Regions from separate parts of the Homo sapiens genome. Here region 1 is linked to region 2. The links come from fine-mapping of genetic effects on gene expression. Tissue or cell type: whole blood. Region 2 holds a variant in brackets; the other region holds the start of a gene. All regions are shown on one strand. Distances are from middle to middle.

The links. PIP is the estimated chance that this variant, and not a neighbour inherited with it, causes the effect.
Region 1: NDUFS4 starts here. The variant in region 2 is fine-mapped to the expression of NDUFS4 in whole blood (TOPMed, PIP 0.97).

Annotation. Positions count from the first base shown.
Region 1 is chr5:53,559,142-53,561,902 of GRCh38, forward strand. It overlaps NDUFS4 (NADH:ubiquinone oxidoreductase subunit S4), which reads left to right and starts at 1,498. Exons shown (of 5, transcript NM_002495.4): 1 at 1,498-1,619. The coding sequence starts at 1,522. RefSeq lists an enhancer at 1,400-1,899.
Region 2 is chr5:53,519,505-53,522,265 of GRCh38, forward strand. No RefSeq gene overlaps it. Among named protein-coding and RNA genes, the nearest start is that of NDUFS4, 40 kb to the right of the region's middle. The variant G/A (reference allele first, on the strand shown) is at 1,057.

The DNA of each region.
Region 1 (2,761 bases), 40 kb after region 2:
GGTACATCCATGTCATGGAATATTACTCAGCAATAAAAAAGGAATGAACTATTGATAAACACAACAACTTGGATGGGTCTCAAGTGCATTATGCCAAGTGAAAGAAGCCAATCTTAGAAGGTCATGTACTGCATGAGTCCATTCATATAACATCTCAAAATGTCAAAATTATAAAAACAGAAACAGAGATCACTAGGGTTAGGAGGGCAGGTGTTACCAAAAAGGTTAGCACTAGGGAGATCTTTGTGAGGGTGGAATAGTTCTGTATCTTGATCATGGTGGTGGTTACACAAAATATGTAGTAGAATGACATAGGACTACACAAATACTTTATATCAATGCCAGTTTCCTGGCTTTGATACTGTACTAGAGTTATACGAGATGTAATCACTGGGGGAAACAGGTACACAAGACATCTGTACTATCTTTGCAACTTCATGTGAATCTATAACTATTTCAAAATGAAAAGTTTGAAAGAAAATTTTCTCTGAGGCATCTCTCCCTTGCCTTCCTTCATCTTGTGCATTTCTTTCCCTGAGTATGACTTTTTCTCTTTCTTTCTCCCTTTCCCTTATGTACTGGGTTTTCCTTTAACGGTCCATAATGCCAAACTATGTCATTCCCCATCCTCCTATTGTTCCTATTTATTTAATGAAGGTTATGTTTTCATGTGCTTAATTTTAAAAGCAGGAAAGTACTAACTCTTTAAACAAATTTCTTAAAAAACAAAACCCAAAACTAACCTGCTTTTTATTTTATATAATTCAGTTAGTCATTATTCTTTAAGGTCGGAAGTCCACAATACAAACATGTTTCCAACACTTGTATTGGAAGATAATTTTTGTTTTATATGCATGGAGCATTAATATCATTCTTCATGTCTATGGATTATGAACACACACACATTCAGGATTTACTGGGGAAACAGTGACATCAAATATTATGTTCTATTGATTCTTCATATAAATCTACATGTCAAAAAATAATCCTTTGCCAGATCACGTATCCAGATTTTTCGTTTGGAAAATACGAACATTACTACTACAGAATATCAAACTGAATACAGCCCTGTCCTGAGGGCTTGCAAAGTGAATCTGGCAATACTTTGGAAAAGTACTACTGCAGGTTCTCAAGGACCCAAAGAGCTCTCCAGCTTTTCCAGTGGGTTCAGCCCCAAATATCCTAATTTCTTCAATAAATTACGAGTTGCAGGTGTTTAAATATGCAAGTATATTTTGGTCTTTTCGTTATCATTGTAAAACACCAGTCCTAACAAGCAGTAAAGATTACACTTTATGGTGGTAATATTTACAGTTAATGCACTTCTGCATTTCTTCCCGCACATTTTTCTTCTTACTTATTTAAACTAAGCGTTTCCCCTCTTTTTTTAAGCCCCAGTATTAAAAAGAAAATAAAATCCCAAAGAATTTCGCAACATTGCGATTGCACTGGCTTGAGAACGAAGGAAGTTAGTCCCTTGCGGTGATCCGTCCTTTCATCCTGGCGTTTGCCTGCAGCAAGATGGCGGCGGTGTCAATGTCAGTGGTACTGAGGCAGACGTTGTGGCGGAGAAGGGCAGTGGCTGTAGCTGCCCTTTCCGTTTCCAGGGTTCCGACCAGGTAATAGAATTTTCACACTTTTCTTCAAGCTTCTTGGGTCCCTCCATTTTTGCGGAGTCTCTGCTGGCTGAGTTCCGGAGGAGGCCTCGGGGAAGGCGTCCTCTGTTGACCCTTTTCTCGGGAGAAGTCGGGCGGACTAGGGACTGTCTGCTATCAATGGGCGTTGGCCAGGCGAGTGAGGGCGTGAGTGCGAGGCCGGGGAGGAGGACCTGTGGTTTTCTGGAAGCTTTCGTATTCGGCTTGTCGCTGAGGGAGAGGGTCCGTGGAGGTTTTGCCTCCGGAGCTGCAAGCTGAACCTTAGCCCTCAGAGAAGGGGAGGAGTCTCACTGATTTCTGTTTCCACTTTCTGCATCCCTTCCATTTGTCACCTGTTTGCCCACCACTCCAGTCCTTACAGAAGGGTTAAATCACTGTATCCCTTCCATGGTTTTAAGTGGTTTTAATTTGGTTTCTGCATAGGAAGATTGTTTATTCATCAGTCTGCTTGGGAGGAAAACTTGTTTGGAATTCAGTGTTAGTAAAAATATCACTGCTAGTAATATTGGAAGGTAATTTTTAAAAGGCTGGTGGTAATGCCTGGAGGTTTTCTAGGGATTTTGTTAAAGCCTCACAATAATTCAGGGATTGAATTGAGTTGTTGAGGGCTCTTTGCGTCCTTGAGAACCTAAAGTAGTACTTTTCCAAAGTATTGTCAGATTCAGTTGTCAGTTGATTGAGTTGTTACTGTTTTTCCTTGAAGCATTTTTGTGATGATTTTTTTTTTTTTGGCTGTATTAACCTTCCATTTTCTATTTTTCAGAATTTCCTGGAGTTTTTTAAATTATAGTACTAATGCTATACGTACATACACACACATATTAGAACAAAGATTGGAAAGACTGGATGGAGAGATTTGAAGGGGGTAGGAGGTGGATGCAAGTGGTTAAAAGTTGAAAGGAAGGTCTAGTAGAATGCTAATTGATTTAGTGTTAAATATAAATGGAATGCAGAGAATTAGGATGAGTTAATTCGGAAGAATTTTTAAGGATGAGTTTTATTAAGGTTTAAATATAGTGGGTGTTGGGTGGGAAAGAAGAGAGTGTCCCGTAGGGTCCGTGGCTTATGAAAAGGCTTGAAAGCATTAGTTAAACGATTACTAAATA
Region 2 (2,761 bases):
TAACTCTTTTCATCTTGTTAAACTGAAACTCTATATCTATTAAATAATAACTCCACATTCCTCCACCCCTCCAGCCCATGGCAACCACCATTTTATTTTCTGCCTCTATAATTTGAACTACTCTAAGTTCTTCATATAAGGGGAATTATAGATTATTTGTCTTTTGGGGACTGGCTTATTTCACTTGCCATAATGTCCTCAAGTTTCATGTGTGTTGTAGCATATGTCAAAATTTCCTACACTTTTTTGGCCATACTGCCCAAAGCAATTTACAGATTCAATGCTATTCATATCAAACTATCAATGTCACTTCCCACAGAATTAGAAAGAAACATTCTAAAATTCATTTGGAACCAAAAAAGAGCTCAAATAGCCAAAGCAATCCTAAGCAAAAAGAACAAAACTAGAGGTATCACACTACCTGACTTAAGGCTACAGTAACCAAAATAGCATGTTACTGGTATGAAAACAGACACATAGACCAATGGAACAGAACAGAAGACCCAGAAATAAAGGTGCGCACCTACAAGCTTCTGATTTTTGACAAAGCTGGTAGTAACAAACAGCAAGAAAAGGACTCCCTGTTCAATAAATATACTGGGATAACTGACTAGCCTTATGCAGATGGTTGAAACTAGATCCCTACTTTTCACCATACACAAAAATCAATGCAAGATGGATAAAAGACTTAAATGTAAAACTTAAAACTATAAAGACTCTAGAAGAAAACCTAGGAAATAACATTCTGAACATTGGCTCTGGCAAAAACTTTGTGACAAAGATTTCAAAGCAATTGCAACAAAAGCAAAAATTGACAAGTGGAACGTAATTAATCTAAAGAGCTTCTGCACAGCAAAAGACACTATCAACAGAGTAAACAGACAACCTACAGAATAGGAGAAAATATTTGCAAATAATTGCATCTGAAAAAGTTCTAATATTTAAAATCTATAAGGAACTTAAATCAAGAAGCAAAATTAAACATCCCCATTTAAAAATGGGCAAAGAACATGAACAGACACTTCTCAAAAGAAGACATACACACAGCCAAAGAGC[G/A]CATGAAAAAATGTTCCACATCACTAATCATCAGAGAATTACAAAAGAAAAACACAATGAGATAGCGTTTCACACCAGTCAGAATGGCTTCTATTAAAATGTCAAAAAACAAAAGATGCTGGTGAGGCTGCAGAGAAGAGAGAATGCTTATACACTGCTGGTGGGAATGTAAATTAATTCAGCCACTGTGGAAAGCAGTCCGGAGATTTCACAAAGAATTTAAAATAGAACTACCACTTGGCCCAGCAATCCCATTACTGGGTAAATACCCAAAGAAACATAAAGTATTCTACTGTAAAGATACATGCATGCATATATTCTTCTCAGTACTATTTACAATAGCAAAGACAAGGAATCAACCTAGATGCCAATCAACAGTGGACTGAATGAAGAAAATGTGATACATATACACTAGGGAATACTACACAGCCATAAAAAAGAATAAGGTTATGTCCTTTGCAGCAACATGGATGAAGTTGGAAGCCATTCTTCTAAGCAGATTAAAGCAGGAACAGTCAAGCAAACACTGCATGTTCTCACTTATAAGTGAGATCTAAACATTGAGCATACATGGACACAAAGAAAGGAACAAAAGACACTGGGGCCTACTTGAGGGTAGAGGATGGAAGGAGGGTTAGGATTGAAAAACTAAGTATGGATATTATGCTGATACCTAGGTGACAAAATTATCTGTACACTAAACCCCCGCAACATGCAATTTACTCATGTAACAAATGTATTAGTCCATTCTCATGTTGCTAATAAAGGCATACCTGATACTGGGTAATTTATAAAGGAAAGAGGTTTAATTGTCTCACCATTCAGCATGACTGAGGAGGCCTCAGGAAACTTACAATCATGGCAGAATGGGAAGCAAACACACTCTACTTCACTTGATGGCAGCAAGGAGAAGTGCTAAGCAAAAGAGGGAAAAGCCCCTTATAAAACCATCAGATCTCATGAGAACTAACTTACTATCGCAAGAACGGGATGGGGGAAACCACCCTCATTATATTCATTATCTCCCACCAACTCCCTCCCACAATATGTGGAGATTATGGGAACCACAATTCAACATGAGATTTGGGTGGGGACACAGCCAAATTATATCAACAAGCCAGTACAAGTACCCCTTGAACTTAAACTAAAAACAGGAAAGAACAAAAGAGAATTACCTCCTTTTTAAGGCTGAATGATATTTCATTCCACATTTTGCTTTTTTATTCATCCATCCATAGGCACTTGTGTGCCCACAAATTTTTTTTTTTTCTGACATGGAGTCTCACTCTGTTGCCTAAGCTGGAGTGCGGTGGCATGATTTCAGCTCACTGCCACCTCTGCCTCCCAGGTTCAAGCAATTCTCCCACCTCAGCCTGCCGAGTAGCTGGGACTACAGGCTCATGCCACCGTGCCCCACTAATTTCTGTATTTTTAGTGGAGACAGGGTTTTGCCACGTTGGCCAGGCTAGTCTCAAACTCCTGGGCTCAGGGGAGCCATCCACCTCGGCCTCCCAAAGTGCTGAGATTACAGGCATGAGACACCATGCCCAGCCAAAAAGATTTTTTAAATAACTTAAAATTTTTAAAAAATAGACACTTGGGTTGCTACCATGTTTTAGCTATTGTGAATAGTGTTGTTATGAACATGAGTGTATGGATATATCTTCCAGACTGCTTTCAAATCTTAAATATATACTCAGAAGTT